4 separate regions of the Homo sapiens genome follow, and regions 1, 2 and 3 are each linked to region 4. Evidence: fine-mapped expression QTL. A gene starts in region 4. Each other region holds a variant in brackets. All regions are shown on one strand. Distances are between the middles of the regions.

Region 1 (7,936 bases), 37 kb after region 4:
TGACCAGGCTGAGAACTGAGAGAGCATGCTAAACTCCACAGTCTGGCCCCAGGGATGGGGGCAGGAAAGATGGCACCACCTCCTTGCTTTATTAGAGGGAAAGAAGGTGCTTCTTGTGCAGAACCGTCATCATAACAGAAAGATAGCTTATTACACGCCAGGCACTGTTCTAGCTCTTTGTTAGCTTACATAATCCCTGTATTAGTTCGTTTTCACACTGCTATAAAGAACTTCCCAAGACGGGGTAATTGATAAAGGAAAGAGGTTTAATTGACTCACAGATCAGCATGGCTGGGGAGGCGTCAGGAAACTTACAATCACGGCGGAAGGTGAAGAGGGGGAACCAAGACACCTTGGCAGGTGGCAGGAGAGAGAATTAATGCAGAAGGAACTACCAAACACTTATAAAACCATCAGATCTCCTGAGAACACTATCACGAGAACAGCACAGGGGAAACCACTCTCATGATTCAATTACCCCCACCTGGTCTCCCCCTTGACATGTGGGGATTGTGGGGATTATAATTCAAGATGAGATTTGGGTGGGGACACAAAGCCTAACCATGTCAGTCCCCAAAATGACACCATGAGGAGGTGCTTTGATTACCGTCACTTTACAGGTGGAGAAACAGATGTGGAAAAGGCACACAACTTGCCCAAGGTACCGAACTAGCCAGTGGTGGGGCTGGGATTTGAACGCAGGCAGCCTGGCTCCATTCTGTACTCTAGAGCTGCACTGTCCAGTATGACGGCCACTAGCCACATGAAACAGGCCAATCTAAACTGAGATGAGCTGTAAGTATAAAATATACACCAGATTTCAGGCCGGGCACAGTGGCTCATGCCTGTAATCCCAGCACTTTGGGAGGCCAAGGCGGGCGGATCACGAGGTCAGGAGATTGAGACCATCCTGGCAAATATGGTGAAACCCCGTCTGTACTAAAAATACAAAAATTAGCCAGGCATGGTGGTGGGCGCCTGTAGTCCCAGCTACTCGGGAGGCTGAGGCAGGAGAATCGCTTGAACCCGGGAGGCAGAGGTTGCAGTAAGCTGAGATCTCCCCACTGCACTGCAGCCTGGCAACAGAGTGAGACTCTGTCTCAAAAAAATATATATCTATATCTGTCTGTCTATATATAGATATAGACACACCAGATTTCAAAGACTTCATGTAAAAAAAATATGAAATATCTCAGTTTCTTTACATTGGGTACATGAGACATGACAATATTTTAGGTATATTGAGTTAAATAAAATATTATTGGATTAACATCACCTGTTTCCTTCTACCTTTTTAATGTGTACACTAGACAACTCTAAATTGCCTGTGTGGCTCACAGTATATTTCCGTCAGACGGAGCTGCTCTCGGTACTTGCTTCTCAAAGTGTGGTCCTTGAATCAGCAGCATCAACATCACTGAAGCCTGACGGAAGTGCTGGATCTCAGGCTTGGTCTCAGACCTCTTGAATCAAATTCTTCATTTTGCCAGCCTTCCAGGTCACTCATAATGCATGCTCACATTTGAAAAATGCCGCTTCAGACCAGGCAGCAATTTTTTTCTCTAAAGGGCCAGATAATAAACATTTTAACTTTGCAGGCCACATGACTTCTGTCCAAAACTCACCTCACTGCTTCTGTAGTATGAAATGAGCCAGAATATGCACGTGAATACGGATTCCACTGTAACCTGCACGGACCTAGGGGGACTGAACAAAGCGGGGCAAACACGGGAATAAAAGACAAGAGACAAAAGAGTATATTTTGAAGAAGGGGTCAGGGGGTACCTTGCCCCTAGTGGACAAGGGCCCTGAGCTTTATACAGCCCTCCTTATTTATTAGGCAAAAGAGATAGTGAGAAGCGGGGTGGAAGAAGGGGTCAGCTGCTCAGTCTAGAGCAGGCTTGCAAGACTGCATTCCTCGAACAACAGGCTAAATGTTGCAGTAGATAACCTCAGCGCCAGGGAGTGATTGCCTCCAGCAAACCTTCTGTCGGCAGGAGCAGTCGTCAGTTTTCTCACATCCTGCATTCATGATAAACAGTTTGCTGTTGGATCATATAGCCTCCAGTGGAATGCTGCGTTGGTCACATCCCATGGGCCTTCGGCTCCCTGCATATCCCCCTTTCTGTTTATGAATTAATTGAAAAAATGTAAGGCCAGGCTGGGCAGCTCTCATTCTCCGATTGGCAGTCCATCCGATTTTACAGACTATAAACAGAAGACAGAGACGAAACAACATTATTCCAAGAACTACATATAAGATGTTAATGTGGTGCCTTAGATAGGTCCAAGGGTTGAGGCTCTCCAGGCCTTGCTGGAATTTGGTCCCGTCTTCTAAAGAAGGCTGAAATTCTTGAGTTTGCCTATTTAAATCAAGAATTTTGTTTTGTAATTCACCAATATCAAAGGTGATGTTGGATGTGAACGCTCCCTGCAAATGGGCTTTCACAAGGTCCCACGGATACTCACTTTGGTTGTATTCTAAGTTGGTTACACAAATATGAGTGTGATTAAAATGACAGCGCAATTACTGCTGCAACTGCAAGCTTTGTACTTGTGCCCCTAACCACAGAACCGTGGATTTCAGCATTGCCACTTCAGTTTGTAGCTCAGTGTTAATTTTATTCTGAAGTCGCCACGCTTGGTCAGCTGTGCGCGTCCAGTTCTCCACGTACTGAGCTATTTGAATAGAATTATGCAAAGCTACAGAAGATATCACAACAGAAGTTACTAGCATGACCAAGTAAACAGTAGCAAAAATTATCATGCCTAAGGCTCTACGGGCACGATGAGTCAGCTGAGTTAGAAGTTTCACAAAATGCAAAGCAGGTGTGGCAGCCCAAGGCTCAGACAGATTAACAGGAATCCCTAGCCCAGGGATACCACCTAAAATCATCACAGTAGAGATATTATGTGTTTGCAATGTGCTATGATTAGTGCAGTGATATAACTGGCAAGATTTACAGGTCAATTGGGTATTGTTTACCTGGAGCTGGTCCTTCTTAGCTGCCAAAAAGACATAAGGATTAAAAACACAAACTGTAAATTGAGTGATGATATTCTTTACAAATGTAACCTTAGAACTGTGTTGTGACTCCGGTCGGCCTTCTCTCCGTCTTTGCATTCAGGCTCAGCTGACTCATGGCTCATACCGGGACCGGGTCCATGGTTGGCCACCCTGGGTTCCTCCAGTCTCCCATTCCATGGTCGCACGCACCTTGAGGGCACCCACACAGTTCATCCATCTCCTGCAAAAACACAAGTATACCCTCTTCCCCACATTAGTAAATCCACTGGACCTTTCCATTGGCCTTCTTCCGGGGATTTCCGTAACACTTTCGGATAAACTTTCCTCTTTTCCTCTAACACTTGCCAATGTCTTTCTGCTGGAGTCTTTACCTTCCATACCAGGAGTCAGAAAATTTAAAGTAAGGCTAAATGTAGTTTTGATTGAGGTGGTAGTTGGTCTCCTATACCCCCTTTTTGTTTTTTCAATATGCGTTGTAATGTTTGATGTGCCTGCTCTATAATGCCTTGTCCTCTAGGATTATAAGGAATTCCTGTTTTATGGGTTATAGCCCAAAGCTGTAAGAAATTTTGAAAAGCATGACTAGTATAAGTGGGTCCATTGTCAGTTTTTAATTGTTTAGGTATCCCCATGTGAGCAAATGATGACAGACAATGTGGCCATACATGACCAGCTGTCTCACCTGTTTGGCATGTAGCATGCAGCATATGAGAATAAGTGTCTATAGTCACATGAACGTAGCTAAGCTTACCAAAGGTTGCTATGTGTGCAACATCCATTTGCCAAATTTCATTTGGAGCCAAACTTCGTGGGTTACAGCCTTCTACAGGTATAGTTCCAGGGACATGCTGGCAAGTAGGACAGGCTTGTATTATAGCCCTAGCTTGGCTATGAGATAAATGGAACATGCGAGTAAGGGTGGAAGTATTTTGGTGCAGAAGTGCATGAGATGCTTGAGCTTGCCGAAACACAGAACCAATCAGTTTGTCTGCTTTCTCATTACCTAGAGATAGGGGTCCAGGAAGTTGTGTGTGAGAGCAAATATGAGAAATATGAAAAGGAGCTGCATGAGAACGAATAACTTGTTGAAGTCTTAAAAATAAATTAAGCGGCTGGGCATGGTGGCTCACACCTGTAATCCCAGCACTTTGGGAGGCCGAGGCAGGTGGATCATGAGGTCAGGAGATC[G/A]AGACCATCCTGGCTAACATGGTGAAACCCCTTCTGTACTAAAAATACAAAAAATTAGCCGGGCGTGGTGGCGGGCGCCTGTAGTCCCAGCTACTCGGGAGGTTGAGGCAGAAGAATTGCGTGAACCCGGGAGGCGGAGCTTGCAGTGAGCTGAGATTGTGCCACTGCACTATATCCTAGGCAACAGAGCAAAACTCCATCTCAAAAATAAATTAATTAATTAACTAATTAAGCAGTTCTGGGTCTAGTGTACTTTTAATTGTGGCAGTTTCTATGCGACTGGCTACATTTACAACATAAGCTGAATCACAGACAAAGTTAATAGGATCTGAGGCTGTGAGCTGTAAAACCTGAATGACTGCAATTAGCTGTAAGCGTTAAGCTGAAACACCAGAGGTATCTAGCTTCTCCTGTGTTAGGGGCACAACTGTGAGAGCATAAGTGTCTGCTATTGAGGCCACCCAGTTTGTGGTGCTTTGTCATGAGGGCCCTAGGAGGCGAATATACTTACCAAGAGCAGGGGACACTTGAGCTCAATAGGAAAGGCTGTGGAGCTTTCAGAGGGGACCGTACAGGAAAACGCGGTGGGCAGAATTAACAGCACGAAGGCAGGGCCTACAATGTGGAAAAGCACAGACACAGTTGTGCAGGCTGGAAGTCAAGTTGAGGAGTCCGCAGGGCGACGCTCCCTCTGAGACCTTGCAGAATCCTTCCTTGCCCCTTCCTGGTTTCTGGCGGTGACCAGCGATCCTCAATGGTCCTTGGCCTGCAGCTGTGTCACTTTTATCTCTGCCTCGGTCTTCACGTGGCATTTTCCTCTTCTTATAAGGACACCTGTCATATTGGATAGGGACCTGCCCTGATGACTTCATCTTAAATTTACTGCGTTTGCAAAGACTCAGTTTCAAACAACGTCACATTCAGAGCTCCCAGAGTTAGGACTTCAACATAACTTTTGGGGGAACACACGTCAACCCCCAACTGGAAGTCTTGCTTGACTGAGTTCAGGTCCTTCTCTCTGCTCGCATGGCATCTTTTTATCGAATTTGTCATTGGAAGTGTCTGTTTATATACTTGTCACCCTGCCCTCTGTCCCACCTCCAAGACTATGAGCTTTCCTTTTTTTTCTTTAGAGGCAGAGTCTTGCTCTGTCACCCAGGCTGGAGTGCAGTGATGCAATCATAGCTCACTGCAGCCTCAAACTCCCGGCTCAATCAATTCTCCCGCCTAGGTCTCTCAAGTGGCTGGGACTACAGGTGCATGCCACCACACCCAGCTAAGTTCTTCATTTTTTGTAAAGACAGGGTCTCATTATGTTGCCCAGGCTGGTCTCTAACTCCTGGGCTCAAGCAGTTCTCCCACCTTGGCCTCTCAAAGCACAGAGATTATAGGAGTGAGCCACCGTGCCCGGCCTGCTGAGTTCTTTAAGAACAGGGACCCCACGTAATCTTTATTTCCGTGTCCCCATGGCCCAGCGCCCTGGATCATTTGTAGTAAGCATCTGATGAAAGGAGCTTGCACTCAGAAAGCCCTGGCTGTGGCCTGGAGTCAGAAGGCCCAGCCAAGCCCTGCCTCTGTCACTTCAAATGTGGCCTTCAGCAAGCCATGTCACTTCTCTGGACTTCAGTTTCCAATCCTATAAAATGTGAGTAAGAACTCCTGTCATACCTGCCTCACAGAGAGGTCGAGGGGCTCCAAGATGATGCGTGTGATGAAAGCCCTTCGGAGCCACTGTCTGTAAAATGGAGAGAGTTGTGACATTCATTCTTTTCCAGCCCAGGACTTTATCTCCTGCTCCATCTTTCCTGACTCAGGCCTCAACTGCAGCCTCGGTCATCCCGTCTGGAAGGTTTGCCTCAGAGCCCAGCCAAGGTCTGGGCAGGTCTGGGCATCCCATGATTGGAGTTGGAGGTCACCTGCAGAGAAACAATGTCACCACCCAGTGGCTGCGCAACCCAGTTTAGTTCCAACCTGAACTGCCCTGCTGAAAAGACAATGTGACCTTTGCAGCATAATCACTGCCAAAAGTAGTCATTTTATAGCAGAAATACAGAGATACTGGGTGAACTCTACAAAGTGGAAGAGACAAGAAAGGTGAAGTTTTCCTCCACCTCTCATTGCAGCTCCACTGTTGGAGGGGCCACAGGGATGGGGTAATGGGACCAATTTATTCCCGTGGATAGTAGTTCCCCTGGGTGTCTACATCCAGGGCTCTTCCTCTGGTGTTTGTCTACTCTGGGTGTTTACACCCTGCCAGAGCAGAGGCTGGCTTAAGACCTGTGGGTGGGCAGATCCCAGGGTCCCTCACTCTCACACAGGCAGGTTTTAGCCCATGTTGGTGAGGCGTGAGTCACAGGCTGGAGAGGAATTCACTTCAAGTCAGTGGTTTGGGATGGCAGGGATATTCATTTCCTGATTCTCCTTGCATTGCGCCTCTCTTAATAATTACACCTAATAATGACGGAACAATGTTCTCTTGTTAGAGAACATTCACATTTAATTTATTTGGCTTCCTTAACAGCTTTGTGAGATATGTAGGGGATATAAAATTATATCTCAATCTATGAAAAAGAACACCAAGATTCAGGGAAAATGGGACAATGCCATTTTTACAGTGAGGAGGAGGCTTTGTTATCTAAGTCAATGCCCCATTTCCTGAGGGGAAATCTAAGACTGGAATCCAAGTTGCCTGATGTCCCTGGAGCTCTCCCCAATGATAAGTCTTGGTCAGTTTGGAGGAAGTGGCTCCAGCTGCTCCTGACATATCACCAGCTCTAAAAAAATGAAATTAAAAGGGCAAATAAGGTCTTAGTTTTATTTTAAAAATAGTTTGATCCAGTGGACCCCCTGAAAGGGTCTTGGTAACTCCCAGTGGTCCCCAACCATACTTCTAGAACAACCGCTGGCCCAGAGCAGGAAGGTAAACTGTGGAGGGGGTGAACAGAGAAGCAAAGTCTCCAGTGTCCCAGTGTTGGTCACAGCCAGCTGTGGCTGGAAGGCTGGGAAGGGAACACCACTCATATGTTTGTCTCAGTCAGCTCAGCTGCTATGACAAAACACCAGACTGGGTGGCATAAACAACAGACATTTCTCATGGTTCTGGAGGCTGGGAAGTTCAAGGTCAAGATGCTGGCCAATTTGGTTCCTGGTTCATAGACCCATCTTTTCACTGGACCTTTCCTGGCAAACAGAAAGAGTGATTTCTCTCTCTGCCTCTTCATAGAAAGCCACTAATAAAATAAAATCCTGAGGGCCCTTCCTCATGACCTCATCTAACCCTAATTACCTCCCCAAGACCTCATGTCCAAATAACATCTCATTGGGAGTTACCGCTTTAATGCGAATTTTGAAGGGACATAATTCAGTCCAGAGACGTGTTCGTCCTATTTTGCTGCTAACGCTATTGAGGTCTGGGGGCTCTTTTTCCTGAACCATGGCTTCCTCTGAACATCTCATCCTCTGCCCACCATGGGCACCTCCTGGAGTGCAGGGGGCTGGCGGGCAGAGCAGAATTTGTACCTTTCCCGCCTCCCCTGTGGTGCAGACCTGGGTCTGGGCTCACAGGAGGCTCATAAATACCAGTGACTGGAACAGAGCAGTCAGGCTGTGTCCTCAGCCAACCCTGAGCGCCCTGAGCAGGCATCTCATATGCTTTCTGGGAGACCAGTGAGGCTGTGCTGGGCTGCAGCCCGGAGCGTGGGCCTTGCCAAGCGCCAGCCC
Region 2 (7,936 bases), 27 kb after region 4:
GGCCTGAGGAAGCCCCTGCCCCAAGGCTGCCCACAGAGGGAAGGATTGTGTGTGTGTGTGTGTGTGTGCCATCTTGACAGAGTGAGTCAGTCTGACTTGCCTTTGTGCTTGCCGTTTGTAGGTATCAGTGCTTCAAATCGGCCTGGATGTTTGAGGTGTTTCATAGGGGCTTTTCGTTTCCTGTCAACTATAAAAGCTTAAAGACTGCCTTGCAAGTTTACGACAAGGAGGTTCAGTGGACCCTTGGAGCCATCCTCTACAGGACCCGCTTTCTACCATTAAGGTAGGGCTGTGAATTTGGGAACGAGAATCAAAAAGATGCTTTTCTGCAGTTACAGCACCTCATGGCAGCTGTGGTCTGTGGCTGTTTGGGGCATTGCTGTTAGAGCCGGCCACGGCAGAATTGTAGGGACAGTGACGTTTGCTTTTGGTCTTGCCCCCTCCCCACAAGTGCTTCCTCCCTTCTCACCCTACCATCCCGTAATACACAGCACTCCTGTCCTACTGCCCTGTGTTTGGTTATTCTCAACTGTCTGTTCCCCAGCCCCGGCAAAAGGGTCAGTTCCGGGGTTCTTAACCTTTATGACTCAGGCCTCTTCTCCAAATACTGTTTAAATGCATGTATAAATACATAGGATTACAGAAGAAACCATCATATTGAAATAATACCAAAATATTACAGAAAACAAGTTTGTGATACTGTAATATGTGTTCTTCTCTATTAACACATTAAATAACAGGATCTGGCAGCAGAATTAGCACTTTCTGTAATTTCAGTGTAGTCAATGAGCGTCAATGATATTTTGAGGCATTGATGATACCATAATGGGACATGAAAGATCTGTGATTTTCGTTAGTAACAAAGTTGCAGGTGCTGCCAACGCTAATGATAGTTTGTTGTCTGCATTCATGGTCAAAGAAATGCTACATCTCAGTCAGCGCTTGGGTAGAACAAAGATGTGCGTTTTTCCCCATTCACGTTTGCAGATCTGCTGTCAGTTGACCTGTGCTAAGAACCTGAGTTACCTGATAGATGAGACATTTGCTCTTCCCCCCACCCCCTCCATTTAATTGAGCATTTCTCAGCAACCCTTTTAACTGGGTTAACTGTAAAAATGGTGAGTCATGGGTGTTACTGATCACAAGCATGCAGTTTGTTTACATGTTGACTTCTTTGTATCAGCGAAACCTTCACGGCTCTTCTAAATTCCTCTGATTTTGGTTGCCCAAATTATAATGACCGACTTCAGAGTATACTTTCACATGTTATCTCACTGATACTTAGAAGCCCCCTGCATTGGGCTGTTCCGTTCTCCATTTCAGAGGTAGGGTTGCAGTTCCTAAAGTGCAGCTCTGGGGCCTGGGTCCCGCCGTCCCCCTGTGCACCCTTTCCACCCCTTTCCTTGCTTACTGTCCTGTTTGTTGTTTGGTGTTCACATGGGCAGAGACATCCAGCAGGAGGCCTTCCGAGCCAGTCACACCCACTGGCGGGGCGTTTCCTTTGTCTACAACCACTACCTGTTCTCTGGCTGCTTCCTGGTGGTGCTGCTGGCCATCCTGCTGTACCTGCTGCGGCTGCGGCGCATCCACAGGCGCACTCCCCGGAGCAGCTCGGCCGCCGCCCTCTGGATGGAGGAGGGCCTTCCCGCCCAGAATGCCCCGGGGACCTTGTGATCCAGCTCACAGCTCCACGAAGACTCAAAAGGAAAAGCCATTTTTGCCTCAGGGTTTCTCCTCTTTATTTTCCTGTGGTTTTGTTTTTTCTTTCCCTTTTTTGTTCCTCCAAACAAAAACAAAATGCAGGCCGAGCGCGGTGGCTCACGCCTGTAATCCCAGCACTTTGGGAGGCCGAGGCGGGCGGATCATGAGGTCAGGAGATCGAGACCATCCTGGCTAACACGGTGAAACCCCGTCTCTACTAAAAATACAAAAAATTAGCTGGGTGTGGTGGCGGGCGCCCGTAGTCCCAGCTACTCAGGAGGCTGAGGCAGGAGAATGGCATGAACCTGGGAGGCAGAGCTTGCAGTGAGCCGAGATCACACCACTGCACTCCAGCCTGGGCGACAGAGTGAGACTCCGTCTCAAAAAAAAAAAATGCATTGTTTATAAGCCCTGCTGTCTAGAAGTATTGCGTTTAGCCATTTTGAGTACAGCATTAAATTGAGGAGTGGGGAAGAGGGAAATTCACTTGATTTTTGCTGCACAGGATATCTGCCAAAAATAAATGAGATTTCTGGGGTTTCTCTAAGGAATGTTAAATTTAAACACATGCACTTTGATACTGGAGGGAGGTGGAAAGATGCATTCTGTCAGTGGAGAGGGGACTGAATAGTGATGCTTTCATAGAACCAAAAAACTTACTGCCTGAAATGATAATCCTCTTTTTTCTCTATCTTGAAAGCTCTAACCTGAAGAGGGTGATTTTTTTTTTTATTTATTGTTCAGGTCTGTTACTGTATATGTTTTCTTTGCAAATTTAAATTTTTTAAACCATTTATATCCAAAACAGAGAAACATGGGCACCAGGAGATAACCATTTATAAAAGTGATAGTGAACTATCGACTACAGCTTTGTGCGAGTGTGTGAAAAATCCCAAGAAACCAGCGTGAGGGGAGGCAATGCTGGTTCTTTAAAAACACACACTTCAGAATTTACTGGTACATTTTATTTAGAAAAATCCTCGTTACTGTTATCTTTTCCTGACCGCAGGTAATTACGCTCCTTATTCCATATTTCAGTGGCATTAGAACACTGTGGTTTTGAAAGAATTGGAAATTCCTAGTTTCACCAGTTTCGGTTTTATTGGAACTAGAGCACATGCCCACTTCTTGCTCAGTATTCCTCAGTGTTTCTGCTTAATCGTGCCTCAGTTTCTTCCAGCTTCCAATTGGTGTTTCCCCCACCCCCCTTAATTAAAAGTCATCTCAGCTTTTAATCGTACTGGGAGACCCCATGCACAGCCTGCCGAGTCCTCTTCCTAACCGCATTGACTGAGGCTGTTGCTGGCAGCACCACTGTAAATCCAGAAGGGAAGAGTCTGCATCCAATACAGGAAATAAATTCACATTTTGAAGGAAAAAATTCGACAATTTAAGCCAAAATCTAAAAAGGACAATTGGATTGGCATATGTGAGATTGGTGTTTTTTCACCTATTTATTTAGTTGAGAAGTTTGGGGAATTCTCGTACAGTTTTTTTAGGTGGAGTTTGTTTTGTGCGAGTGTCTGTGTGTGCTGTTCCCTAACTCCAGAACAGTTAAATTCCTGTAGTTGGTAGCAGATTAGTACCCAGAAGTGGGGTTGTTGCTATAACAGATAACTGAGGATATTATAAAAGTGGCTTTGGAACTAGGTACTGGGCAGAGGCTGGGAGAGTTTGGAGAAACAGGAGAGAAAAGGCCTGTATTGCCATGAACTGAGCATTAGGGGCAGTTCTGCTGAGGGATCAGAAGAGAAGACCAAGGGAATTCTGTCCCAGTTGTGGCTCAAACTGCCTCAGGTGCAGCTTAACCTGCGTCTCTGGAAGGTAAAATGCATCTGATCCTTGAGGCAAGAGCTGTGGGGGCATGGCTCCCTCACCTGGATTTCAAAGCGTGTTACCAGCAGCCTGGGGACCCAGGCTCTGCCTCTGGATTTACCTGCATCGTATTTGCGCTTCGTGGTCAAAGTTGTTAAGAAAGGGGTGAGCTTCTGGCTACCTAATAAGTTGGTCTTGGCCACCTGCCTGCGACACTTCCTGGAGGAGCCATGGATTATTGGTGGAGGCTGCAGGGAGCTGGCGATGGAGCCACTGGTGTCAGCAGCAGAGAGGGAAGAAAGGAAAGGAAGGGGCCACAAATGGTTGAAGTGGGCAGGTGGGCACCCAGGGAGTTAGGGGACCCCGCCTTCCAGCTCTGGGCATAGAAGAGTTAGTCACATACCTGAGGATCCTGAAACAAGGGCTGAGAAAACCTCATTGCTCCAGCTGAGAGGTAGTAGTGGATTTGCCATTTTTAAACAGTTGCCTAAGAAAAAA[C/T]GTTGAAGAATATGCAGCAGACACTATATGTGGCCTGTAAAGCCTAGAATATTTACTAAAATATTTACAGAAAAAGTTTGCTGGTCCTTGTGAGAACAATGCAGTTCAAAAAAGGATACAGACAGAAGCATCCTCTTAAATCAGGAATGTAGTTTCCATTTGTGGGCACGAAAAGATGGACAAGAGAAGTAACCAAACTTCAATCTTAAAATATTTGTTGCACCAGAATTTCACTTCGGATTTTTCCGTCTAGATTATTTTCAAGATGAGTTTTGAAACAAACCAAGAAACCTGCCCCTCACCCAAAATTGTTTAAAAAGAGACCACTCAAGGGAGTTCATTATGCCGTATGGAGATGTCTGCAGTCGCAGCAAATCACATTCCAGAGAAGGTCTCGCGTAGGTGAAGACAGCCAGGTGCTTTCTCTAAGAGATACAGGGTGGGTGAGAGACAAGCCAGGGAGGATCTTAATTCAAGAGAAGAATTCATACCAAGAGCTGACCAAGAAGGCAGTAAATTCTGTGTACTTGTAGCAGAAGAAATTGGACTAGGAACTTGCCCAAAGCTTTATCAAAGAAAAGCATTGTGTTCAATCTTGGTAGAAACATGCCAGCAATAAGTGCTTATGTTCCATAGCCATATCATGGGCTTCTCACTTTTAAACCTCCTCCAGGGGATGTTCTCAGACATTTCACAATCCCTCTGGGGACATTACAGTAGAAGAGAAACACATGGAACTGTACCAGTGCTTTTTGCCCATGTTCATCCTAAGCTCCGGCTTTAGGCAGTGCTTTCTGACCTGGGCGGAGTGAAGACGCTGCTGGTGGCTGAGGCCAGTAACATGGGGCCCCTGCCCAGCCACCCTGAAGGCTGGGTAGGTCCCTCTTTTCACCACCAGTTTTCCACATCTGTGTACTCTAGATTAACAAACTCTGGATAAACAGATATTTACATTTTAAACTCAGGCCTACACAGAGTAGTTTTCCTTATAAGGAGCATGTATCACTTAGCAAGAAACTAAAAATGGCAAATGAGTTTTTCATCCTTTAAGAAAAAAATCAGCTTTAGAATTCTCTGCGGTCAGTTGTGTGCAATGCAACAAAACTACCTTTCAGTAAATTACTTAGTTATTTATTTCAGTGTTTTGTTTCTTTTGATACTAAGTTTCCCTTTCAATAATGAATGATGTGACCAACCAAGGAGAATTTGTTTGTTCTGTACTAAAATTATATTTTACAGTTAGGAATTATAAAAAGCAAGGGAGCATCTTTAAATGTTTTTTGTTTAAGCGATGTCTTCCATCCAAAGTAAGAATAATACTCTCGGAAGGTCCTTTTGGTGTCATGTCACTTGCTGTATGTGGCAGCCTTACAGTGCCACACTTGGGTACTGAAAAATCAATAAAACGAAAGTTCATCATCCCATGGCCCGTAGACTGTGTGGGCTTGCTTCCTTGTCATCTTTGAATCTTCTTACTCATTAGAATGATGAGTTGAACTTGAGTCCAAATTCAGTGAAATACATTGTCTGAGTCTGACGCACACTCTTTGCATGTGTTGTGTTGGGTGTGCATACAGTGAAGCACAATTGTGTGGGGTTGTGGAGAGGGCGTCCACACTCTCTGCAGCTCAGAAAGCAGATATTTCACAAGTAGTGACCAACCCACGACGTTAAGCCATTCACCAACAATAATTGCCACTCTGAGATGACTGTTTATAAGGTCACCATTTTAAGTACCTACTTGTATATAGACAAGGAAAAGTAATAAAATTAACCAATTTTTATGTATTTAATAGTAACAGCAAATGCTGACTTTATGTTACACTGTTTTGCAGTTCGATCTAAGCTTAGAACCTTTGGCTTACTTCCAGAAAATTATGACTGTCATTATTAATGTTACGTGTTACCAATATGGAGGATGACATTAGACGCTCAGCATGTTTCTCAGCCGTTGGAGAATACATAGATGTTCTCCTGGAGCAGGAAGGTGGGCCTGAGCCATAACCTGAAAATAGATGATAGAGACAGATGGGAAGGGAAGGGGACCAGCTGTTAGGACCAACAAAAATAAAGGCCTGAGACATGCCGGAGAGGAGAGGGAAGCGCAAAAACAAAATGAGAGAACAGAGCCAGCAAAGTGAGCTCAAGGGAGGTCCTCAAGCCATTGATCGCTAGGAAAACAGGACACAGCATTAAGATAGAACTGTCGTAAATAATTTTTGAGGCAGTGCAATGACTATAGGGCTTTTTGCCTGACTTTAAATACGTTAAAATATCTAAGATGTTAAAAGACATCTAAATTTTTATTCCACTTGGTGGAAGAGAAGTCAGTGCCTATTTCCAACACTAACCATGTTGACAGGTCTGAAAAGCCATGGTTCTGTGTTTTTGTTTTCAGTCTGTTTCCATTTGTCCTATGAATTGGCATGTGCCCTGTGGGTTTTTTTGGTTTTTTTGAGATCCGGAAATGCTAATGGTTTGCACAGAGGGGGTCGTGAGGTGCAGGTCACCTCTGTCAGAGTCACAGTGTCTTCTTTTGGAAACGTCATGAAAAGACAAAGGAGTGCCCGGCTAATCCCAAAGCACGCCTTGGCAGAGTGGATCTGCCTGGAGCATCCATCCGTGGCAGCATGAAAGGCAATCCTGTGAGAGTCTTCCTGGCCCCACCTCGTCTGGGAGCATGTGGGCCTGTGATCCCACCTCCTCCTAACAAAAGAAGAGTGTGTCTGTTGATGTGTTTTATTTTGCTTTTAGCCAGGCTAGTCCCCCTGCCCTTGCGCAGTCCAGCCTCTTTCTATTAATAGATCTATTAAGGTTGACTGAGACCTGCTGCAGGGGACGCTAGGGGCACTTTGGCCTTCGATCTTTGCCTTTCACCCTTGACACTGTTTGGCAGGTGAACGACATCCGGGCTCCAGACTTCATGGCCACTTCAACATTTCTGTCAACAGCCTGTGTCTGTTTCATGTAAGAGGCCCAAACAAGAAAATCAAGGCTTAAGAAGGATTTCTGCCTTGAGTAAAGGACTGAAACCTCCTCACAGAACACGATGGTGACAGGCACAAAAGACAGACTTCTTGTTTAAGTAGGTGAACTCCAAAGACGAGAGAAAAGGAGTTTTTTTCCTCCCGTTCAACCAGTCATCAAATAAACATCTCAGGCATCTGGTGTTTTGTCAAGGGATTGGGATTCCAGTGGCCCCTGTGTGACTGGAAGGGGAAAGGTTTGTCGGTGGCAACGCCATCGAAACACAAAGGAGCAGCTTTAGAATCCCCAGTGTGGGTCTTCTCTTGTGTTATTTCTACAACATCCTTGTGCCAGCTGTTCTTGCTGTTCTCTCAGGCTTCTAATTGGGAGTGTGAATACTACCTTTCACCCTTTTTGCCTTCATGAGAATCAGAGTTTGAAGTGGACAGTTCTGAAAATATTAATCATCTTTTTTTTTTTTTTTTTTTTTTTTTGAGACGGAGTCTCACTCTGTCGCCCAGGCTGGAGTGCAGTGGCGCGATCTCGGCTCACTGCAAGCTCCGCCTCCCGGGTTCACGCCATTCTCCTGCCTCAGCCTCCCTAGTAGCTGGGACTACAGGCGCCTGCCACCACACCCAGCTAATTTTTTGTATTTTTAATAGAGACGGGGTTTCACCGTGTTAGCCAGGATGGTCTCGATCTCCTGACCTCGTGATCCACCTGCCTCGGCCTCCCAAAGTGCTAGGATTACAGGCGTGAGTCACCGCACCGGGCCTAATCACCTTATTCTTGCCTGTCATTACACAAGCCTTAAACTCCAGGGACCAGACTTAGCACTTTCTTTTCCTAAGATTGCTTTTTCTCCCACTTGGCCCAAGCTTTAATACCCAGATTTTAGACTCAAAACACTTAAAACATTTGGTGGGCTCTCCTCAGCCTTGTAAAGTTCTTTGAT
Region 3 (7,936 bases), 76 kb before region 4:
CCTCGACCTCCCAGGCTCAAGCAATTCCCCCACCTCAGCCTCCCAAGAAGCTGAGACCACTGGCGCATACCACTATACCAAGCTAATGTTTTTATTTTTTGTACCTATGGGGTCTCGCTATGTTGCCCAGGCTGGTCTCCAACTCCTGGCCTCAAGTGATCCTCCCACCTCGGCCTCTCAAGGTATTGGGATTACAGGCGTGAGCCACTGAGCTCGGCCTAAACTCACTTTTAACTTGGGCAGTCTGGGATCTCAAGGAAGAGGAGACATCCAGGTCCCTGAACCAAGGCAGTAAGTAGCTGTGGGGAGGGAGAGAAGGAAACACATTCAAGAAGTACTACAGATACAGCCACAGGCAGGCCTTCCCTGCATACAGGGCAGCAGTGGGAGAAAAGCTGATGACCATCCCAGGGTGCAGAAGGAGGCAGAAGGGCAGGCCCGAGGGGAAGCCAGGACCACCATTCTGGCCACACTGAGTCTGAGGAGGCTCCGAGGCAACTGGAGATTCAGCTCCAGAAAGTCTGGGCCCAAGATAGTGATCTGGGAGCCATCAGGTCCCAGGAGGAAACTGAGGCATGTGTGCTGGGGAAAATGAGGTGGAAGGGCACATTCCTGAGGAGAAGCCATGCCCAAAGAGGAAAACTGAGGATCGCAGGGCCAACCCCCTCTCGGAGGTGCCCCTGGCAGGAACAGAGGCAGCAGGGTGGGCCAGGAAGATGATGGGTAGCCAGAAGTCTCTGTGAGGCTGCGGCTGGGCAGTGCAAAAGCCAGGAAGCAGGGGTGGCAGTGAGGAAGTAGAGACCAGTGTCAATAGTTCTTTCAGAACATGTGTTGTTTTAAGGAGGAAAAAAAGGGGCAACAGTTTGTTTATGGGAAGAAACATTGGGGGTGCATGTGAGGTCAAGGTGAGAAGTCTGGGGTTTATTTAAGACAGGATGGGCTTGGATCTGTAGAAACACTTTTGAGAAAAACTCAATGGAGCAGGAAGCCTAAAGATCCTGGAACCGAGTCACTCAAGAGTGAGGGGACAAAAATGACATCACCATCACCATTTATTGACAACGTACGCACCACGCACTGTGGCAAGAACTTTACATATGTTGCCTCATTTAATTCTTACAACAACCCTATAAAATAGCTCTTGGTATTTGATATGGTTTGGCTGCGTCCCCACTCAAATCTCATCTTGAATAGTGGCTCCCATAATTCCCACGTGTTATGGGAGGGACCCAGTGGGAGGTAATTGAATCATGGGGGCAGTTTCCCCCACACTGTTCTCATGGTAGTGAATAAGTCTCACGAGATCTGATGATTTTATATGGGGAAAACCCCTTTCACTGGGTTCTGTCCTCTTTCTTGTCTGTTACCATGTAAGATGTGCCTTTTGCCTTCTGCCATGATTGTGAGGCCTTCCCAGCCACGTGGAACTGTGGGTCCATTAAACCTCTTTCTGTATAAATTACGCAGTCTCAGGTATGTCTTTATCAGCAGCTTGAAAACAGACTAATACAGTATTCATATCCCCACTTTGCAGAGAAGGAACCTGAGCTTAGAGAGGTTAGGTAATGTGCCCAGGTGTGCAGCCAGTATTCAAATCCTGGTGTCAAGGTGGTTTGTATACATCTCCCTTCTCTGCCACATTGATATACCTTAAAGGAATGAAGACACCTGTTCCCTTATAGTGGGGGTAGAAGGCAAGAGAGTTTGGAAGGACAGTGACAGGAAGATGGGTTTGATTGAGGTCCTGGTTTCCCTATGACATGGAAGCAAGATGCCAGGCTGAGGCTGACAACAATAGGGTGGGGAGCTAAGGGGCAACAGGACCCTCGTGAAGGATGCAAGCAGCTGCCCAGACATGTGGAGCTGAGGCCAGGGAGCATGCGCATTGGAGGCAGTGTGAATGTCCCCTGAAGGGCTTCGCTGCCCAAGGGACAGATGGGCTGTCCAGGACCCAGGTGGGGCAAGCCAGGGTTGGAAGAACCAAAGGCAGAGAAACTAAAGGCCCCAGCAGCTGCAGCAGTCAATCTTGGGGTCCAGGCTATAATAATCTGGATTTAAGATCTCAGGAAGATTCTGAGTTAGGTCAAGGGACCATGGAGGTGAAGGCCATTGACTCAGAGGTGTAAGGAATGGAGTGATTTGGACTTGAGTCGGGTGGGGACGAAGAGGGGCCATCCTCAGGGTGAGGACGGGATCTGTGGAGGTGAAGTCTGTGCATCAGATGCCAGAGTCCTCAGGGAATGAGAGAAAGTGATGGCAATCATGCTGATGATGATGAAGATAAAGATGAGAGCAGACATCAGAGAGTATCAACTGTTCTGTGCGTGTACCAGGCATGTGAAGTGCAGCGAGGGCTTAACCCTCCTCACAACCACCCTGGGAGATCGGTACCATCTCTTCTTCTTTTTACAGATAGGGAAATAGCACAGAAAGGTTAAGAAACTTGCCCAAGGTCACACCTAACTGGGAAATGGGACCCGGTCCAGGGATTTGGACTCAAGGGTCCATGCTCCCAACCCTTAGCAAGAGGAGCTGGATTTCCATCAGGAGGGGGAAGTGAAAGAAACATTCGGTAAAGAGGGGAAGATGTAAGGGAGCTTGTTAACAAGGAACTTCCACAAGGCCCACTGGAAAAATGAGAGAAGTGGGAAAGAAGCAATGGAAAGCTGGGTCAGGAAAGAGAAAGCAGGAAGAAAATCAGGATCCCCATTTGACAAGTAAGGACATGAAGAAGCTAAGTGTCCTGCCCAACCAGTAAGTCAAAGACTGGAATTTGAACCCCAAGATAGTTCTCTAAGGGTGGGAAATCCATCTCAGTAGGAACTTGAGGGAAGGTTGAGGGAACTTTAGGGAAGGTTTCCAGTTCAACAAAAAGAAAGAGGCTGGGCATGGTGGTTCATGCCTGTAATCCCAGCA[C/G]TTTGGAAGGCCAAGGTGGGAGGATCGCTTGAGCCCAGGAGTTCAAGACCAGTCTGGGCAACAAATTGAGGCCCCCATCTCTACAAAAAAATACAAAAAAATTAGCCAGGCATGGTGGCATGTGCCTGTAGTCCCAGCTACTCAGGAGTCTGAGCTGGGAGGATCACTCAAGCCCTGGGAGGTCAAGGCTGCAGTGAGCTGCAATCACACCACTACTCTCCAACCTGGGTGACAGACCGAGACCCTGTCTCAAAAAAACAAAAAAAAAGAGAGAGAGAGGGAGAAAAAAAAGAGAAAGAGATTGGATATACCCCTCCTATGACAAACATCAGACACAACATTCAAGGTGGGCATGGGAGTGGCAAAGCCATGCATCCTGGCATGGTCCAGCCAACACCATGATCACAGGGGTATGTCTGTGGCCAGCATGGATGGGACATGACAGCCGGTATTTCGGATTAAAAACAAAAACAAAAACACAAATTCTTTGACAAGAAAAGGTTCCGTACTAGTGGAGACAGGAAAAGAGCCAAAAAGCTCTGGGGTTCAAGAAAGATGCTGAAGGCTTCCACACCAGCAGGTGAGTTCATCCGATGAGTCAGAAGAAGGAAACCCCTGAAGTCAGAGAGAGTCAGAAGCCCAAGACTAAAAAACAGAGAAAGTGGAACTGATTCCCCAAGACTGGTCACTGCTGCAAGACAGGACAAAACTCATCTCTAATGAGATGGCCACATGCAGCTGAAACGTGCCCAAGTGGAAGCCAGGAAAAGGTTTGGGAAGCACATTCCTCCCTTCCAGGTGACACGCACATCCCCCACCCCAGGTGCACACCCCTGTATAGTTTAAGCAAAGCAGCTGATTAAATCCTCCCATTCAACCCCAAATACCTCTCCCTACTAAAAAGCTGAGGCCCCCTTTGCTGTTCACAGTACTCTTGGGCACGCGCCTCCAAACCACGCTCCAGCCTGCCCCTCCCCAATTTAGGGCAGAGAAAAGTGGATGAGGTTCTCACACTCCTCAGGGTAGGCCTGAGGGGTACAGGCCATGGCTGCCTGGGGGTTCATGAAACAAGGAACAGGACTGCAGCTCACAAATACCCCTTTTTTGATTCCTCGTTCCAAATTCGCCTTTTAAGAAAATCACCTCTCATCAAAGGAGAGAAAAGAAGGGAGCAGGGGGATGTGAGGGAGAGGAGACAAGAAGGGAGAGAGAAAAATCATTATAGTTTTGTCCCAGGAACTAGAGCAATTTGGGATTTCACGCCCTTCTGAAGCTGAATGGCATGGACCGAACTGCACTTTGTTTGGAAAGCAATGAAGTGGGTGGGAGGGGACTCTGGCAGCTGCCTGCACTGCCCCCCAGCACCCTTCCTACCAGTCTGCCTGCAGCCAGGAGAAAACTCAGAAGAGGAGAAGTCAGAAGTTGAGGTAATGCTCTGCTGAGCTGGGCAGGCTGGCTGTGCACACCATAAGGTCAGCCAGGAGGCTCCTAGAGGGAACGCTCCGTGGTGCACCAACCTGGGAAGGAGGGCTCATCCTAGGAGAGTCACAGGCAGGGTTTCCCCCAACAGCAAAGCAAAAGAAGGGTTGTGAAAGGGTCAGCGGAAGTCCCCCGGCTTCAAATCTTTCCTGTTTCCTTCTGCCCCTGCTTTCCCCAGGCGGGACTCGGCATGGTCTCCGAGTGGTGTGCCTAATCTGGTTGGAATTTCCTCCTCCACCCACCTGGCATGCTCCTCAAGTCTTGAGCTCTCCTGATCAGACCAGGGGTTCTTGTATCCACCCCAAGTGCCCCTTGCCACTCTGGAACACCAGAAAGAGGCTCATGGAAAACCTGCCACCAGACCCCGCCTAGACAGGAGTAAGTCATTGCCACCATTTGGTGAGAGCCCTGCAGAGACCCTATACTCCCTCCCTGGGTATCACTTTGCTGCTCACTGTCATCGCAGGGGCAGCCAAAGGTCCCAGTAGACTGGCCCTTTATGGATGAATGAGTGCTCACATCCCACCATGGGAGGACCAAGGGAAAGAAGAAGACACAGGAAGCAGCAGGAAAGTTGCCAAAGGTCTTCCAAATACCCATTTCATAATCTCAGTGTTGCCTGCTGGGGCTCCAGAGATATTTTCTCAGGTTCAGTGGTTTTCATATTTGTTTGACCACAACTCCCAGCCAGAAGTACATTGTACACGTCTGTAAAATGCACTCAGAGACACACACACAACCCAAACAGAATTTCAACATTTCTCCCACTGCATGCCAGGCACACCCGTATTTTTACACTCTCACTAATAACTTCTTTTATTTATTTATTTATTTTTAAATGCAGAGTCCACTAATGGGTCATGGCCCACCATGTAAAAAACACTAGTTATTAAAGTGACACTGGGGATGTGAGGTGTGACCTCACGAAGAAGCAAATTTAATATTATAATGGGAAGCATCCACCAGGCCGACTTTGCACTTAGAACTGCAAAATAAGTAGCATCAGGTTCAGGGTTGAAAGTGACCAGCACAGAGCTCCACAGTCCACATTACCTAGGATAGAAAAAAGCCAGCCGATTCAACATTCTTATTTGTCATTACAAGATCAAAGTTAAAAATGGCGCCTTTCAAAACTGGAGAAAGCTTTCTCTCTTTCAAGATCCGATTTACATAGATTTGTTTTCAGCTGTAATAATTCTTTTGATATTTCAAGTAACATAAAAGAGGACGATGGGTGTTGTGTGTTCAGAGAAACGAGGCATGGGTTAAAAATGTGGAGAGGGACTGAGCAGGTCCACTGTCCCCACTTTATAGTGACAAAACTAAGGCACAGAACAGTGCCCGAGGCATGAAGCAAGTGAGAGCAGGGCTTGAAGCCCAACCCGGGTTTCTTGACTCAGTTACTCCCGGTCTTCGCCATCATCCAAAATACTTAAGAGGAACACAGGTGTGGTCTCCCCCAAGCCTTTCCATGATGGAGGATGCACCCCTGACTCCTCATGCTTGGCAGACAACTGTGCTGATGTTGGCAGACCTTGGCACTCAGTGGCAGCCTCAAAACCAACCCTGCACACTTCAGCATGGAAGGGCCCCTAAGGGTCAGTTATAATCCCAGAACCTAGAAGACTTCACTGATTAGCTAACCCACGCCTTGTTTTACAGACTTGTCTAGGAAAACCAGACCGGCTCCTTCTACCATTCACACCATGTTAACCTGTCCACAGGTGAAAACTGCTATGGAAAGTAATACTAAGTATACAGGTGACATCTGAACCAAAACATATCAACATGTATGGGGCAGGGAGAAACTAAACACAGATCACACAATTTAAACGTGTGAGAAACGCCTCTTGAGAGTGTCAAAGGGTGCTCAGAAGGCACAACTAATTATTTCTAATCCTAAAAATAAGCTAAAATGATGCTCTAAAGTGAACTCACTGTGGGGTTCCCGAATAGAACATTCATCTCAAGACACCAGTAGGACTAGGGCCTGCTCAGATAACACCTCCCTGCTCCTAACTTTCCCCAGACTCTGCCCAGGGCAGTTGAGACAACAGCTTCAATCATGGAGAATTTTATTACATTTGAGGGATTCTTTCCCATACAAATGCCACCTGGTATCAGTCCAGTGTCTTTCCTGGAGATGAGAACCATTCCTCTAACTCCCCACTGGGACACTGGAGGGACATATGGGTGATGGCTCAGGCTTAGGTCCAGCAGCACCTTGGAAGCCCATGTCTTTCCTCACTGGACTTCTGCCTGTCCAGACACTGACTGCTGGCTCCAAGCGAGCTCCCCGGAGCCGGGAAAACCCTCTGAGTTATACTTTCTGGCCTTCATACCTGCTCATGCAGGACCAGCATCAGCAACAAGATAAAGCTGCTGGGGGTGCCTCTGTGGGACCTGCCTTGCAAAATAATTGCCACCTAGAGAGGCCTCCGAATCCTCCAAAGCACACTGCAGCTGCAGCCAGAGGATAGGAGGTGGTGTAGGAGCCTGGGCAAGGTAATCGGTTCGCCTCTCTGCGCCTCAGTTTCTTCATCTGTTAACCCCCAGGGCTGTTGCATGAATTAGGCGAGTTATGCCTATAAAAGTGCAACGTGTAACAGTCAATACTGGCATTACTTCCTGCACTACTCTATCCTGGCCCTGGGGTGTTCTGGGCAGGCTGACAGAGGGCAGGTCTCAGTCTACCAGGCAAAACGCACCTAGTAACGCTGCCTCTTTACAGAAATGCAGTTAAAACTACCGGGGCAAGTGACAGACAGGGTTTAAAGGAAACTGAGTGCCTCTCACACAATCCACAGCAAGGGCTGTAAGGCACAAGCCCACCCACCTCCCCGCAAGCAAAAGGAGAAGGCAAACGTCATTGCCTCCCGGCGGCTCGGCGACCCAAAGTCGGGGGAAGAAGTGCAGGAACCCTCAGAAAGGGGATCCCACGGGCCGCTGTCGAACCGGTAAAGAGCTGCCACTAGTCGAGAGAAGACTTGCCGGCCCCAAGTTCCCGAAATAACCCGGGGAGCAGCAGCCACACACCAAGTCCCGAGGGCGCGCGGCCGGGCCAGGGCCACACGTTTCTCAGCTCCAGCGTGGTGAGGGCTTCCCCTGCGGGGAGCTCCCTCGGAAACCGCGCACGTGTGGGCGGCCCCAGCCAGCCCGAACGGCCAGCGTGGTAAGACTGTGCAGAGCTTCAGCGATCGCGTCCCCCGGGAGCCCAGTCGCCGCCGAAGCCAGCGGTGCTCGCCACTCCGCCTCCCCCGCCTCAGCGCCGCCAGCAGCCGGGGCCGGGCACGCGGCTGGAGCAGCGGGCGGTGCGGGGCGAGGACCGGGCACCCTCGCGGGGTCGGCGGAAGGCGCGGCGCCCAGGCTGCGCGCAGCTGCTCCTGGGGCGACCCCGGCCAGCCGCGGTCCTGGGGAGAGCTCGGTTTCGGGACGCTGCCCCGAGGCTGCCGGCGCGCGGGATGCAAATGCGCGCGCGCGCTCCTTCTCCGCTCGTTGCGTCCCCGAAGTCTCCCCGCGCCTCACCTTCACCGAGTCCACC
Region 4 (7,936 bases):
TTTTGTTTTTGTTTTTGTTTTTTTGAGATGGAGTCTCACTCTGTCACCCAGGCTGGGTGCAGTGGCGCAATCTCAGCTCACTGCAACCTCCACCTCCCAGGTTCAAGCAATTCTCCTGTCTTACCCTCCTGAGTAGCTGGGATTAAAGGTGCCCACCACCTTGCCTGGCTAATTTTTGTATTTTTAGTAGAGATGGGGTTTCACCATGTTGGCCAGGCTGGTCTCAAACTCCTGACCTCAGGTGAGCCACCTGCCTCGGCCTCCCAAAGTGCTGGGATTACAGACATGAGTCATTACACCTGACCTTGATTGGCCAATATTTTGTTAAAATTTTTGCACCTATGTAAGAAATATAGGTGTGTGATTTTCTTTCCTTTTTATTTCTTGGTATCAGGATTATTCTGAATTATAAATTAAAAAGTGTTCTCTCTTCCTTTGTTCTTTCAAAAGAGTTTATATAAAATCAATATTACCTTTCTTAAATGATTGATAAACATTTACTAGTGAAGCCATCTTGCTCTGGAATTTTCTTTTTAGGACCTTAAAGATATGGGGTGATTCAAATGTTCTATTTCTTCCTGTGCCAGTTTTGGGAAGTTGTATTTTTCAAAGACTTTTTCCATTTAATGTAAATTATCGAAATGATCAGCATAAAGTTATTCATAATGTTTTCTTATTATATTTTCAATTTCTGTATATCTGTAGGGATCTTCCTCTTTTATGCTTGATATTTGTTATTCGTGTTTTTTTGTCCTGCTCAATCTCACTAGGAGTTTAGCAATTTTGTTAATATTTTCAAAGAACCAACTTGTAAGTTGGTTAATGTCTCATATTATTTTTTATTATTTTTTTCCTCCTATTCACTTCGAGTTTAATTCACTTTCTTATTCTAATGTCATAAGGTGGAAACTTAGATAATTGATTTCAAACCTTTTTTCTTTACTAAAATAAACTTTTAAAGCTATAAATTTCTCTTGAAGGACTGTTCTGACTGCATTCCACATATTTTGATGCAGTTTCATTATCATTCTGTATGCCGTGTTTTCTAACGTTCTTACAACCATGCCTGGCATAAAGTACTTAGTAAGTGTTCCCTCCTGTTAGCTCCAGTTTTTGTTTTTTTTTTTTTGAGATGGAGTCTTGCTCTGTCGCCCAGGCTGGAGTGCAGTGGTGCGATCACAGCTCACTGCAAGCTCCGCCTCCCGGGTTCACGCCATTCTCCTGCCTCAGCCTCCTGAGTAGCTGGGACTACAGGCGCCTGCCACCACGCCCAGCTAATTTTTTGTATTTTTTTTTAGTAGAGACAGGGTTTCACCGTGTTAGCCAGGATGGTCTCGATCTCCTGACCTCGTGATCCACCCGCCTCGGCCTCCCAAAGTGCTGATATTACAGGCTTGAGCCATCGCGCCCAGCCTAGCTCCAGTTTTTGTTTCTCTTGTTAACAAGTGAGAATGGGCCCCTTCAGAGCCTCTTTGCTGTTTCCACTGACTGAAATACTATTCCTTCATATAGGCCCAGAATTCTAATAAATTCCCATTCATTGTGCAGGTGTGACCTCAGACAGCGTTACCTCAAAGAAGCTCTCCCTGATGAACCAGACCAGGATGGTCCTCTCATGTACTAAGTTGAATAGTGACCACCCCCAAAAAATTCATGTCCACCCAGAACCCATGAATGTGACCTTATTTGGAAATAGGATCTTTGCAAATATAATCAAGTTAATATGAGATCATAAGATCACACTGGATGAGGGTGAGCCTTGAATCTAATATGGCTGGTGTCTTTATGAGAAGAAAGAAACTTGGAGACAGAGACACAGACACACAGAGATAATACCATGTGACAACAGGGGCAGAGACCAAAGTGATGCATCTACAAGCTGAGGAAGGCCAAGGATGGCCAGTAGCCACCAGAAGCTAGGAAGAGGCAAAGAAGGATCCTCCTCTAGATCTTTAGAGAGAGCACAGCCCTGCTGACACCTTCATTTCAGGCTTCTACCATCTAGAACTGGAAGACAATAAATTATCTTGCTTTAAGCCACCCAGTTTAGGGCAATTTGTCACTGCAGCTCTAGAATGTAATATGCCAAGTTACACGTTTCCATACTTTCCTATATTTTTCTTTCCTAGCTCTTATCAGACAATTATTACATATAAATTATCAGGAAATATGGATGGTGTGATAATACTTACTAGTCTGGCTTTTCTTCTCTCTCTCTCTGAGATGGAGTCTCACTCTGTTGCTCAGGCTGGAGTCCATTGGCGTGATCTCGGCTCACTGCAACCTCCACCTCCCGGGTTCAAGCAATTCTCCTGTCTCAGCCTCCTGAGTAGCTGGGATTACAGGCACAAAAAAGCCACTATGTCCAGCTAGTGTTTGTATTTTTAATAGAGATGGGGTTTCACCATGTTGGTCAGGCTGGTCTTGAACTCCTAATTTCAGGCAATCCACCTGCCTTGGACTCCCAAAGTGCTGGGATTACAGGCATGAGCCACCATGCCCGGCCTAGTCTGGCATTTTAGTAGAGCCCTCCTTAAGGAAGACTAACATAACCCCAACCAGTGTCTCCAATGGCAAAGATTTTGAAAGGCAGATAATTTCGAAGGAGACTGTCCTTAAAATCACAGTATGTCAGTGGCCAGCTTTAGCTTCTCAATGCTAGCCTTGGGTCACAGGGTTTTCTAGTGTGAAAATTATCCAAACGAGTAATTTCTTATAGCAACAGATTGTCAAAAAAAAGACACTGATGCGCAAGTCATGTGGGAGTCTGAAACATTGGTTCTGCTCTCCTCTGCCTCCAGGGGGTCTTGGCCAAGTCACTCAACCTCTCTGGGTTCCAGGCTCTTAACTGTAAAAGAAGGTGATTGGGGCTACACAGTAGAGTCCCTTTGGCTCTAACCTTCTGAGGCTTCATGGTTTCTTCCGTTAACAGTAGCTGAATCCAGGAAGAGGAGGTGACCCAGGCGGGTGCTGGACCAAGAAGGATTCTGTGTTAAGATGTAGAACTGCCAGTTCTGTCTATGCTTGTTTTACTTGATAAATGGAATGGAGTAGACGTTTCTAGGGCTCTTGTTTTTAAAAATCTTTTAAAGTGGCTGGATTGCTGGTCACTTCCTATCTCTGGGCCACAGTGCATTCACCTGTATACAAGGTGGAAGAAAGGATGGAACCCGGGATTCCCAAGGTCTCTTCCGGCTCTCAAGTGCAAAGTTCTGTGTCTTCAAAGCAGTTTATTGCTAAGCCAGAGAGCTAAGAGAGCTTAGCCTTGTACTAAGTGTAGGTCATGGGGTCAATCTCAGGAACACCCTTCGCTTTATTTCTTCTCATAACCATTGCGTGTGTTGGGGAGGGCTGGGGCAGTCTGCCTCCCCCAACATAGGCACTAACATATGCCATCGACGGGCAAGAATGAAATCCTGGCTCTACCTCTCACGAATCAGGTGGATCTCAAGAGAGACTGAATAAGTGTGAGCCTCCGTTTCCCCATCTGTGAAACAGGGAGAGTTACCGGCAAAGGTGTAAATGTCAAGAGTTGAGCAACAATGCCTAGTCCTTACCAGGTTTTCAAGCGCTATTTTCCATAACCGTTAGGAGCGCTAAGGAAAGATAAACTGCGGTGTCCTAAGTACGCTGAGGCTCGCTGACGACCAGACGAGCACCACGCCACAGTACTGGGTGCCTCCGTGCTCCCACGTCCACATTTCCCGTGCACAGCACACTGGCGTGGCCGCGCGGGTCCACGGAACAGCCCAGCGCTCGGACGCCAATCATCCCGCATCAGGCTCCGCCCCCCAGCGCTCAACGCGCCCCTCGGCGTGCGCGCTCCCGCCGCCAGCGGGCGCGCTCCGGGCGCAGGCGGTGACGTGTTGCCGGCGGGGGCCGGGCGGGGGTGCGGCTCCAGGAAAGGAGCGCGGCCTCCAGGAAGCCGGCTGGCCGTGATGCTGCCCACTGGTGGTCCCCCGCTCCCGGGGTCCCCGGCCGGCCAAGCAGGTGAGGTTGCCTTCCGAGCGTGGGTGAGGGGAGGGCGGGCGGCCGAAGGGGCCGGCGAGTGGGTTGGAGTGCGGGGGCCGGCGGCGCGGCGAGCGGGCCGCGGACGAGCCTCTCTGCCCCAGGCCCCCACAGCCGCCTGCTTAGCCCCGCGGACCGGTTCCCGCCTCCCCTGCCGCGCGGCCACATCCGAGCGCCCCGGGACCAACCCCTGTGAGCCCTGGCGGCCGGCGCGCTCCCCCAGCCCCTGGCAGGGGACACCTGGCGGTCGCGCGCCTCGGGTGACCGCTCGGGATCCCCCCCTCGAATGGGCGGAGCTTGACCGGGCAGCAGGGATGCTGCACCCGGGACCCAGCCGGCCCTGCCTGCCGCTTTAAATGATGACATTCGCTCGTCTTGTCGTTTTCGCTTTGCTTTGCTTTTGCCAGATTTCATGTTAGATTTCTTCTTGGAAAAATGGAGCTTATTGGGCAGTAAAGTGATGATGCACAGCATTGTTTCTGAACTTGAGTAATGCGCGGACCCCTTTTAAAGGAACAATTCTCTCATGGTCTAGAATGTGTCCCAGAACCCTTAGGGTGCTTCAGACCCCAGTTAGATGAACCCTAGTGCAGAGCGTTTTCAGAGAACACTTATCACGAAGGAAACTAAAGAGATCCTTTATGATTCAGGAACTTTCAGGCTAGAAGGTAAACTAGAGGTAATGGAAGAATTCTAAATTAGACACTCAAAGCCCAGGCTAATTTCGCATTGCAGTCTTTGTTGTCTCCTTTTTGTGATGAAAATACCAAATTATCCAGCTTTAGAGAGGCCTAAAAGAGTTATATTATTTGTGTTACCATATATTTGATGTTTTTGTATCAGGTTTGTTAATTCTGTTTGACATAGTAGAATTATAAAATGGAACACTAATTCGTGTAGTTGAATCGTTTATTTCTCTGTTTACCTTAACAGAGGTCTTGTAGTTGTTGCATGTTGAATCTATGGCTTATATTCTTCTACCTCTAATAGGAAATGTGTGACTGAGGCCCTTGAGGATATAGTCTAGGAAGGAGACAAAAATGAACATTTATCTAAGGATTTATATTCTCTACGTATTTACTCAGCATGTTTATTTAAAATAGACTACTCATGAATAAAGAGACGATTCCAATTGTAAGAAAACATCAGGATGTGTAACAGGTTAAATCTTGACAAAGAAACATGTTGACTTGTGCCTTGAAAGAAGTGTAGTCTTGAGAGGAGGACACGGTGGTGGCTCGGAGGAAGTGCTGTTAGTAAATGCCTGAGGCAGGCATGGAGACAGCTTGTGTGGGAGAGAAGAGAGAGACCTGCTGCACTGGAGCTGAGAGATGGTATCTGGGACTGATGAGAGGATAGGTTGGTGAGATAAGGTGGACCAGTTGATGGATAAAAGGTTTCAGGTGCCACACAGGAAACTTGGTGTTGATCCATGGCCTTCCAGAAGGTTCTTAGCTGATCATATTTTGAAGGCCGTGTTTTACAAAGAGTTGCTTGTAAAGTGTGGCGTGCACAGTGAAGGCAGAAGGTGGGTGAGTCGCCAAGAGATCTGTCTTGAGGTAGTGGTGCCTGCTGTGGTCATCTTAGATATGAGGGATATCTGAGGAAGAATCGACTGGCTTGGAGAATGATAGAAGATTGTCAACACCGGATGTGGGAATCAAAGCTGAGAACCAGGTAATCCAGGTCAATGGGGATTGGTGGTACCCGTCTTAGACCTGGAGAATTTGGAGGGTGGTATTAGAGTTTGCATTAGAAGATTTCAACCCTAGAGTTGGACTAGTTGAGCTTGCAGTAACAGGGCTTCAATGAGCTTGGAACGTGGAACTGGAACTTGAGGAAAGTCAGAGTTAATTCAGGAAAAGTGACCAGAAAAAGACTACTTAAAATGGGAACCAGAATTTTGCAAATTAATAGAGGGAGGAAGAGGTTAAGATTTTATATTGAAAAATAAAATTAAAATGTGTAAGATAAATATTGAACATACAGATCATAAATGCAACTACATACATATCTTCTTAAAGAATGAATCAAGTTGTCTTCATGTATCTTTTGTCACTACTGAGTAACGGTGCCACCCGGCAGCCTCCACATCAGCCTCTCACTCTCAGAAAGACAGTTGTTTCTTGCAAAACGCTGCCGGAATGGTTGAGAGCATCTTTAATTTTTCCAGGTTCTCTTGAATCCTTTGATATTCAAATCATTCTTTTCTGAAGTACCCTTCCCTGTGGTACCTTTGCTTATTCAGAAGCTGAGCTCTCCCAGAGGCTGACTTCTCTGTGATTTTGTTTGCCTGTGATTTGAGTTCACTAACATCTGTTTCCTTGCATCTTGTGTTTTTCCACCAGAGGAACCATTTCCCTTTGTGGTTGATTTGCATTGTTTTCGTCGTTATCTGTAGAACTGTCAGTGAGAGACTGACAAAGACATTGACACCTGACTGTAGGCTTTATTCCAATAATGTTCAGCCAAGTAGGGCCCCACTAGCTGAAATCATGAGAATTAATGCATCTCTCTGGTGATAGGTCTAACACAATTTAGGCTTTTTTAAAACATGTCAGTTTTATGTGGTATTACTGAATTTGCCTCCCAGTGCCCTGGTGCGAAGATTCTTAGCTAGAAGGACAATTGGAGTTTACATTTGAAGATCAAATTACCATTTAACTCTTAGGCAATAATCCATTGTACTTTTGTCCTGAGTTAAAATTACAGTGCTTCAGCAGTTATAAGCTGTCCTATTTTCTCTGCTTTTAAACACAAGCTTTGTAACTTAAAATATCTGTTTGTCCTTTTGATCAAAATCATCACATATCTCAAAAAAAAAAAATTCCTGAGACAAACCTCAGATGACACAAAGTTTCCTAAGTGCGCTGTGATCATTCTCTCGGTCACCTTCCTCTTCGAAGTGTGTTCTTTCTCACCCCATCTAGAATTGACCTCCCACCTCTAGGAATCTTTTCCTGCTAAAGCTAGCCTTCTCTGTGCTCTTCTCTGAGCTCTTATAACAAGAATCCCAGTAATTTAACATTGCCTTTAATTAGTATCTTGACTATTTTCTGGGCATTAGTATTTTCTCTGTAGCAATCTGCAAACTCCATGAAATTTGGAGTTGGGTTTGTTACTCCTCATGTCACCTTCGTAGTCCTGACTTTCTTCCTCAAGGACCAGTTTGCCTTTAACCATGACTTTAAGCTGTTAAATAAAACTGTCTTTTCTTTGGTTCTCAGTTCAGCTATCACACAACTATCACTGATGTTTTTTTTAAATGTTCAGATTGGAATTCCTGTGTCCTGATAGGCTTTTAAGATAGGCTTTCTCAATATATTCGGAAAAGTATTTGATCCTGGAAACAAGGTTTCATCCGTCAAAGGTAGCTTGTTAAAAATTGTTATTTCCTCTGATGATAAAATTAATATATGTCCTTTGAAAAATATAGGCAAGCCTAGGGAAGAAAATAAAGATGATACCTGATCTCATTGCCCAGAAATAACTAAGCACTGTTAATATTTTGGTTTCTTTCCTAACATTTTATCCCCCCATGCATGGGGACATTTTTTCACTTAATATATCATGAACTTGTTTTCATGTCAATAAATAGATCTATGTCATCACCTTTAATAGTCACATTGTATTCCATTGCATAAATGTACCCCACAGTGGACATTAGTAACAGTGTTTTGCTGTTCCACACAATACTATGATGACCATCCTATAGATTTTTTAGTGAATTTTCCTGATGACTTCCTAAAGATGAATTTCTGGAAGTGTGATGGGTAGAGCAGAGGATAGGCATGCATAAGTGTTCGTGTGTGTCACCCCAGTACCCCCAGAAGGTTAGTGATGTGCCTGTCCAGAGTCTCACAGCAGTACTCATCGACCTTTTCCCCTTCCCCTGTTAGCCAAGTATCACCAGGCCTTCATGTCTGTC

The links. PIP is the estimated chance that this variant, and not a neighbour inherited with it, causes the effect. A credible set is the group of variants that fine-mapping cannot tell apart.
Region 1: its variant is the best candidate, but not a certain one, in a credible set for the expression of ENTPD4 in blood mononuclear cells (TOPMed, PIP 0.75).
Region 2: its variant is the best candidate, but not a certain one, in a credible set for the expression of ENTPD4 in whole blood (TOPMed, PIP 0.75).
Region 3: its variant is the best candidate, but not a certain one, in a credible set for the expression of ENTPD4 in whole blood (TOPMed, PIP 0.56).

What each region holds. Positions count from the first base shown.
Region 1 is chr8:23,416,295-23,424,230 of GRCh38, reverse strand. No RefSeq gene overlaps it. Among named protein-coding and RNA genes, the nearest start is that of LOXL2, 16 kb to the right of the region's middle. RefSeq lists enhancers at 1,509-2,009, 7,842-7,936. The variant G/A (reference allele first, on the strand shown) is at 4,217.
Region 2 is chr8:23,426,664-23,434,599 of GRCh38, reverse strand. ENTPD4 (ectonucleoside triphosphate diphosphohydrolase 4) reads left to right here. Exons shown (of 13, transcript NM_004901.5): 12 at 122-283; 13 at 1,446-5,438. The coding sequence ends at 1,674. Among named protein-coding and RNA genes, the nearest start is that of LOXL2, 27 kb to the right of the region's middle. The variant C/T (reference allele first, on the strand shown) is at 4,015.
Region 3 is chr8:23,529,197-23,537,132 of GRCh38, reverse strand. It overlaps SLC25A37 (solute carrier family 25 member 37), which reads right to left. Exons shown (of 4, transcript NM_016612.4): 1 at 7,921-7,936. Among named protein-coding and RNA genes, the nearest start is that of SLC25A37, 4.2 kb to the right of the region's middle. RefSeq lists an enhancer at 7,074-7,143 and a silencer at 7,644-7,893. The variant C/G (reference allele first, on the strand shown) is at 2,917.
Region 4 is chr8:23,453,611-23,461,546 of GRCh38, reverse strand. ENTPD4 (ectonucleoside triphosphate diphosphohydrolase 4) reads left to right here and starts at 3,900. Exons shown (of 13, transcript NM_004901.5): 1 at 3,900-3,990. ENTPD4-DT (ENTPD4 divergent transcript) reads right to left here and starts at 3,776. Exons shown (of 5, transcript NR_186533.1): 1 at 3,558-3,776; 2 at 2,193-2,333. RefSeq lists a silencer at 3,687-4,366 and an enhancer at 6,232-6,733.